Homo sapiens: one gene and its partner. The protein of the gene in region 2 interacts with the protein of the main gene of each other region in a biochemical or structural test. Each region holds a gene or a part of one and is shown on either strand. Other genes may lie near its edges.

What was found. Proteins that work in one complex are often made in the same cells at the same time.
Region 1: the proteins of NUP54 (region 2) and KPNB1 form a complex in vitro, tested with the Homo sapiens proteins (one study listed by BioGRID).

What each region holds. Positions count from the first base shown.
Region 1 is NC_000017.11:47,683,462-47,686,585, reverse strand, and holds the end of KPNB1 (importin subunit beta-1), read right to left. Parts: 3' UTR 1,081-3,124; downstream 1-1,080.
Region 2 is NC_000004.12:76,133,539-76,139,232, forward strand, and holds part of NUP54 (nucleoporin p54), read right to left. Parts: intron 2,875-5,694; coding exon 2,648-2,874; intron 825-2,647; coding exon 637-824; intron 1-636. UniProt on the Homo sapiens protein: Component of the nuclear pore complex, a complex required for the trafficking across the nuclear membrane.

The sequences.
Region 1 (3,124 bases), on a different chromosome or scaffold from region 2:
ATTGCATTCTTTTCTCAAGTCTCACCTTCAGTGGAGAAATGTTCTCAGTGAATCATTGCTGTTCAGGACTTAATGCAGTCTGGTAAAAATTTACTCTCTATAACTCAGTAACCTCCAAATTGGATTTAGAAATACTAGAACTTCTATTTATCATGTAATTGCTTTTTACTTTCTATTTTTGTGTCTTATGATTACACAATATGTGGTTATAGTAGTCCAAGTATGTTATTTATAAACACATGGGGTATGCATGATCAAAAGTTTACTAACAGGGTGTACAATCAGAAAAGGGAGTCTACAGCCCTTACTTTGCTTAACTAAGAAAGGGTGTATTTCCATGAACTAGCCTGCAGGCACCACTACGCTAATAAGCAGCAGGGTTAAAGGAAAGGGCCTAGTCTCCTAAATCTCAAACTAGTGTTCTAAGTTTCTTGAGGGGGGGAAATGCAAGTAGAAATGAAATACATGATGAAAACTAAGTGAAAGGCCAACTTTTGGATGATCCATTAGACACGGAATTAGCTTGAGAAATAGGCACAAACAGAGGACAATGATTCACTGAGAACATTTCTCCACTGAAGGTGAGATTTGAGAAAAGAATGCAATTAGTTCATCAAATGGCAGAGAAGGAGCAACTGCTCCCACAAGAAACCCCATTACCGTATACCTGGTCCCAATACAAACACTCAGAAACACAGTGCAAGCCTGCAGTTCCACCTGGCCTCCAAGGTGCCAGCTTGGCCCACCTGAAGTGAAAAATGGTAAACACTGAGATTTTATGTTTTAATTTGCAGAACAACCTTAGTCAGTATTCCTGTTTTACTGATGAGGAATGCTTCAAACTCTCCAAACACGAAACATCCTCCATGCATACTTTTTCCTTACCTCATTTGTAGGACACTGTTTCATCTATATCACATTACACTATGTAATATCCATTTCAAGATGTGTGTCCCTCCTTTTCCCCACACACATACATACACAAACACCTCTCACCACACATTCTGACTTTCAAACCATTTCACCTCCATGGAGGTGACACCATTTGGGACAAAAAAAAAAAAAAAAAGCAGCAAGATGTTGAAAATAAAAATAAAGCGGACTTTATTTAGAAGATAAAGGTGGTGGTTATCGGTTTTGGTTAATCGAGTTGGGCTCAAGTGTTTTACAGGTCTTAAATGCCATCACAGACTGGCATGCCAAGGGCATTCTGAATGCCAATTACAGATTGAAGTTGTTTCAAAAACCAAGATGCTATCAAAAGCTGATGAGTTTGGATTTTTCTTAAAGTTGGACTAACACACTTCTTAAATATTTGTAAGAGTAAATAGATTGCTTGGTTCTGAAAGTTAAAACACTACACTGAGCAATTCCCCTTCTCCACAAGTCCCTAAGGCAATATTACAGTTGCCTCTGACAGCAAGTCCAACATTTCAACAAAGGGGGGGTGAGGAGAACTGGGAAAAATGAAAAGCAAAATTAATAAATGTAATTGATACAGGCAGCTGCCACTTGTGGCAAACCAAAGCCTAGTCCGATGCCCATTATCTTCACATTTGCACTGACATCTTCCCAAGCAGACGGTAACTACATTCTTGAAGGAATGTGCCAAGACTAGGGTGGGGAAGGCCCAGACAGTGAGTGAACAGAATGCATTTTGCACCCAGTTGCCTTAGGTGGTATAACTGATATAAGGACAAATACCCAGACTATGGAAAACCCACTGGCAAAAGGTTAACTAGAAAAGAGGAGAATTAAATGCATAACCAGTGCAGAGTAACTGCAAGGCACCAAGACCACATCCAACCAGCCCATTTTCCTCCTCTCCACCACTGAATGGATCTGGGAGAAAGCATTAGTAACAGCACTCATCAACTGCTTCCCTGGAACAAAACATGACAAAACACACGGAAGGTTTTTTCATTATGGTTCTCGGTGTACTTTATTCTCCTGCTGTCTAGCTAAGCAGCCCACACAGGACAGAAATGGGTAGCACTGAGGAATGATCAGATTTTTTTTCTATCCCCAATATTTCTGCCCCCTCCCTAAGCCCTGACCCAACCCTATCTTAATAATCACGAATGGTTAGTACATCATTCTGTCTCTCAAAGAACAACTGAAATGGAAACAAGGCATTAGAGGACCAGGCCTCTTCTTAATAGGGCTTAGGAGCTGGTATGAGCTCTTTATTCACAATGGAGCGTCTCTCCTTCAAATACCTGGATTTTTTTTTTTTTGTACACTGGTTCATAGATCGGCACTTGACTTTGAACCTGGCACCAAAAGGCACAATATCTGATACCCTGTACAAGAGCTATTAGAGATGCTGCCATATGGATGGGCAAAACTGAGCCAATCCCACTTAGGAATGGAAGGCTTGGACATGGAAGGGAGGATATAAACGAGGAGTTGGAGAAAAACGCAAGCCCAGTTTTTGCTAGAGTGGAAATGAAAGTGGGAATGAGGGTCTTGTTTTTAGTCCTCTAAGGACCAGGAAGCAATTTTAAAACTTCCTTGGTTTTTCTGAAAGCAGCATATTCAAAATGCCAGCAAAAACTCCTAACAACTGCAAAACCAAAAGAGGATCAAAGCTCACCAACATCCCTTCTTATTGCTGAAAGGCTCTAAAATTCAGGATGCCCTGTTCCCTTGTAAAAGGGAAAATAATTAAGTCTGATTTATGGTAATCATACCACATCACACTTCTAAAAAAATATTCAAGTGTGTGACCAGGGGACGTTTGACACCATTTTATTAACCTTCAACTTCAGTGGAAAAATAAAACCTTTTCCAAGTGCCATTTTCATCACAAGACTTCTAGTTAGTGTGTGTGTGTATTCACACAACACACACTTTTTTTTGTTTTTGTTTTGTTGGTTGCTTTTGAAGTGCAGCAAGAGACCAATACCGCATTGTAGTCAATCAAATAAAAGAACAGAAGGCCAAGCAGTTTCCAAATGGTTATTTTATCAGATTGTTTGAACATTTAATTTATCCTGTTTGCAATCCAAAATAGTTACCTGAAGTTTGCTGTTTTGTGTGTATGTGTTTACTTTTATTGTATATTTATTTTTCTAAACTCTTTGGCACAATTTTCTGGGGGCGTTCAGACTGCCACAATACA
Region 2 (5,694 bases):
CCTCATGATCCGCCCGTCTCGGCCTCCCAAAGTGCTGGGATTACAGGCGTGAGCCACCGTGCCCGGCCAATAAGATAATATTTATAAAAGGGTTTGCTTAGTTGCAAAATCCTATGTAAATGTTATTTACTATAGGAAATTCTGTTGAAATTTATGGGCTGCTTCTCTGCAATTACAACCACAAGTAAAATCTGTTCAATTATTGCATCTCATTAATAATCATTCCTCCAAATATCCTAAAATAAATGTCTTGCCACTAACACTGAGAATTATACTTAGGTCAAGGGAAGTAAAGCAATAATATTTATTCATGAATGAACATGAACAGTAATGAGTTAATAACATTTTCCAATAACATCTTTATGGCCCTCAATTTGCACGCATCTATGACAAATGGTCCCTTCCTGGCCTGAATGAAAATCTAGAAAATTATTAGCATCTAGTAAGTTAAAAAATCCAAAATTTTAAAAAAACTTTTAAATAAATGTTTTTATCAATACTGAATAATCACTAGCTGAGAAAAGGCATTCTGCTCTGAGAGTTAATTTGTGCTTTAGCAACAAAAACATTATTGATCACTCCCTTAGGACCAGAAATAAATACACAGAAATAAACAGTATATTTATGTATACTTACTGATCATCTGGCAATGTTTTAGTGCCCTCTACATTTACAGTAAGGGTCTGGTTTCCTCCCAAAACTTTATGCAATGATTCTACCAACTGTTGTTGTTGGCTTCGAATCTCTGTTTCTTTTTTGTTGAAAACTAAAACCACTAGCCCATCTTCATCTTTATTACTGGGCATGCAACTATAACCTACTGCCTGTGGAATGACAAAATAAACAATATAAAAAATATGTACAGATCTTAAATCAGGTGTTTAATATTAATAGCTTAATATCTGCTAAAATGGGAAAAACAACTTAATGTCTGGTAATTAAGGGAATAATGATTCTTCCCACCATTTTGTGCCCTAGGAGGTCACAAAATTATAAAGAAAAACTATTTTACCCAGGAATAACATTAACCTATAGAGTAAGATTAACATTTCCTCTTTGAGAGAGTAACTAAACAGCTTTCTCCCCTAAAAAATTTTGATATTCATTATTGTTGGTTGTTTCTGAACCATCTGCATGTCATTATAAAAGTGACTGCAAAAATCACCAACTAATTATAATTTATTTCACTATACAGATTCTCAACTTATGATTTTTCCATTTTATAGGGTGTGAAAGCAATACGCATTCATATATACATACATGTAAACCATACATGGAATTCTGATCTTTTAGTTTTTATTATAAAATTATTATTATTATAAGATGGACTTGATGTTAGATTATTCTGCCCAATTGTACACTAATGTAAGTGTTCTGAGCATGTTTAAAGTAGGCTAGGCTAGGCTATGATGCTTGGTAGGTTAGGTGTATTAAATGCATTTCTGAATTACAATATTTTCAATTATGATGGGTTTATTGGGATGTAACCCATAATAAGTTGAGGAGTATCTGTATATCTGATTCATGGAATCTTAAACTAAGTTTTAAATATATAAAGAAGTAATTTACAAATAAATACTTTTAAATCACAGTAATGACAGTCAACTTACAAATACTATAAAGAATGTCTGTATCACTTTATTGGTTTATATAATACAAAACTTTATGAAACAGGGTTGTTGTTTTTTTACATATTAATATGACCAATTATACTTTTCTAAATAATTGCTCTTTTAGATAGAAGCCTTTTATCCCTTTTCACCACTCACCTGCAACTTTTAAAAAAGAATTTAAATTAACTCAAGTGTACATTATGCATTTTACCATGTTATACACCAACTTTATTGTTATATTCAACTTATGTCTATTATTGAATACCTCTTAGCGACTAAATACATGTATCAAAATTTCAACTATATGCACTCAATATACTTTTTGTTAGTGATGACACAAAGAGATGTTCTGTAATAAGACAGGCTGACCACTTTATTCAAGGATCTGATCCTCAGCCTTACAGCTCCAAACACAGGGTTATGTACATATTGATTAGGTTTAAGAGACCAACGTAGGCCAATATAACTCCTAAGAGGCTGAGGTATAAACTGGATTGCAATACGTAATTTGTTATGGAAAATGCATTACCAAATGGACCTAAATACTCTCACTGGCTGATAAAGAGATTTTCTGAAGAGACAAATGAGAAGGTTGTTTGGTAGGCAGGGAATAAGAACACAGAAAATGGGCAATATTGTTTTAATAGCTTTGGGGTTATACATGCCAAGGGGAATTTCTGTCTGCTGGTTAGGGTATACTCTCCTGGCCAATGTTAAATGAATACCACTAAATTGTAGTTTGGTGTCTCCCCTTTACAGGTGCCAGGCAAACCATTCTCCTGTTTACATTTTTTTTCTTCAGTTATAAATCACATTCCAGTCACACCTTCCTTCATTCATATTCTGGTCACCTTCAACCACACATATGTATGAAATCACTTCAATTTTATAATTTCTATATTTTCAAAATAAAAGTATAATCATACCATGTTCAAGGAGTAAAGATCCAAGCAATTGTTATCTTGATATTAATCTAAATATATTTTCTGTTATACAAAATCTTCAACTGAAGATAAAAATAGTATTAATAATACCTTAAATCGGCAAAAGGGATTTTCTTGTGTGAATTCCACTGGCGGAATATTATTGTTGAAATACCCTTTTCCTGTTCCCCAAAAGGCCTGCAGTTGATTCCATTTTGCCAAAATAGCATCTCTCTCATCTCCCAACAGCGTTGGAGCAGAAAGAGCACTCGCAGTATTTATCAGCTGGTTGGACTGGGTAGGAGCTTGTGTAGGCTGACTGAAGAGACCACCTAATGCTAAAAATGTACCCAAAATTAGTATTTAAAAACAAAACAAAACAAAACTTAATCCAGATCCTAGGCGTGGTAGGCAAAATAATGGCCCCCTCCAAGATGCCCATATCCTAATCTACAGAACCTATAAATATGTTATCTTACATAGCAAAAGGGCCTTTGTAGATGTGATTAAATTAAGCATGCTGAGATAGAGGGTTATCCTGGATTATCAGGAGGGACTCAACGTAATCATAAGATCCTCAAAAGTGGAAGAGTGCGCTCAGAGTCAAACAGATCTGAAGATGCTATGCTGTTGGCATATGGCAAGATGGAAGAGCCGCGAGCCAAGAAATGCAGGAAGACTCTAAAAACTGGAAAATGCAAGAGAATGGATTCTCCCTTAGTGCCTCTAGAAGTAACGCAGTACTGCCAGGACCTTCATTTTAGCACAGTGAAACCCACTTCTGGACTTCTAATCTCCAGAAACTATAAAATAATAAAATTTTATTGTCTTAAGCCACTAAGTTTGTGGTAATTTGGTATGGCAGCAATAGGAAACTAACACACTAGGCCAAACCTTATAACGTTAAATTTGTTTTTCTAATAATATTTTTTTGAGACAGGGTCTTACTTTGTTGCCTAGACTGGAGTGCAGTGGCAAGATCATGGCTCACTGCAGCCTCAACCTTCTGGGCTCAAGCAATACCCCTGCTTCATCATCCTGAGTCGCTGGGACTACAGGAGTGCACCAATGTGCACCTGGTTAATTTTTTAAAATTATTTTTTGTAGAGACAGGGTCTTACTATGTTTCCCATGCTGGTCTCAAAACTTCTGAGCTCAAGCGACTCTCCTGCCTCAGCTTCCCAAAGTGCTGGGATTATAGGCATGAGCAACTGTGCCCAGCCCTAATGATGTTATCCAAATTAATTCCATTACCAGAACACAGATTGGGTCCACAATATTAAACCTACACATGAAAGAATGGAGGGAGGGAGGAAGGGATGCATGTGGATAAAAAAAAGTTTGTAAAGATGTAGGATTTTTTAAAATAACCTTTATTGCTGTTATATTTATATAATAAATACAAATTGGGGGATACAAAGTCTAAAAATCATTGTTATATCAAATACCAGCTTACTAAACATTTTCCTTTCTCTCATTATTAAAAAATATATATAGTAATAACAAATGGATTAACCATCAGTATTCTAGGCTAAAACTTTAGATGGCTGTGTAACTTTGGGCAAATCAACCTCTCTGGGATACCAATTTCTCTAATGGAAAGAAGGGCCAAGTTCTTAGGGCAGATAAATATGCCCCAAAGTGTGAGATAAGTATGTCATCTTTCAACAAAGCGAGGAGCAAGTCTAAGGCTCAGAGCTTAAGGCAAAGTTATCTACCTAGAATTTATTTACACTATATTTTCTTTGTACTTAATTTCAATTACCTTTTCCTTAGAGCAAATGATACTAATTTTCCACTTATAGCAGCAATAAATTTTACTTTAAAATAACTGTATTTCGTGTTTCAAAGTAAACTGATTTAAAGAAAATTCTTAAATAGTAATACAAATGGTATGTAGATGAGGAGAAAACGTGAATACCAAAATGACCTGAGTTTTAAAACACTGTATTAGATATTGTTTAAGTTCTCTTTCAGCTCTAAACATTGAAAGTACCACAAGGTCCATGGAGCTTCTACAGAGCTAGAGAGAGGCTCTTTTACTCTCCAGAAAAGTATTAATTCCCAAATTAGTATATATAAACATTGGCAAGAACTGGACTAGAACTCAGAACACTTGAATCCTGGTTTATTATAAGGTCGCTTTCTATCCTTGAGCAAGAAATTCCTGGGCTTTATCTTCCTCAACTTTTACATGAGATGAATCAACTGTGATCTCTATACCGAGACATATGCAGTCAGCCTCCCATGCTGTTGATTATTCCTTTGGCCCCCAAAGAAAATCTTCACCTTCTGTTGAATACACATCCTCCTTGAAAGCCCTTCTCCCTTAAATTTCCTGACAACACAGTCTCTCTTGGTTTTTTATAAACACATTCATTCATTCATTCACCATTAATTCATACAACAAATATTTACTGAGTACCTACTAAGTGCTCAGAGCCAAATACTAAAGATACAGTGGTAAACAAGGTAGACAAGGTGCATTAAACAAACTGAACACATCAAACAAATATTAACAATTGTGATAAGTCCTTCAGAGAAGTACAGAGGTTCTGGGAGTACTAAATAAGGGAGCTGATCAAGCCTGAGAGAGGGGTCAAGAGAAGACAGTTCCATTAGCACTTCAGTTAGGGCCTAAAGGAAGGAGTCAGCTAAGCCATGGGGTAGAGGTAAAGGCCAACAGTATGTGTAACATCTCTGTAGAGACAGAGAGAGGAAGATGAGTGGACAAAAGCAATAAGGAGGACTAACAATGAGGTAGGAAAAAACTAGACTGGAGTGTCACAGAAGTTAAGGTCTCCCACTGGCCAAATGCAACAACTGAAACATATTTATTAAAGCCCATGCATTCAAAATGGTAATTTTATAAAGTAAAGATCAAATTTTTTTTAAATCCTAACTCCTTGGATACCATTAGAAATAATGAGACCGCCAACTCCTTTTTACAAAAATTGTCCATTAAAAAGAAAAAAAATTATCTTGCCTTTACTATACAAACTGTACATCAGGGTGATCAAGCAGTCTTGGAGGATGAAGAAAAAGTTCCTTTTACAGAAGAAATTTCAGTGTGATAGGGAGGAAATTAGAAAATCACCATTTTGCAACTCCTAATAAGATAACTGATTGAGGCAATGATCATCAAGGAATGAAACCAT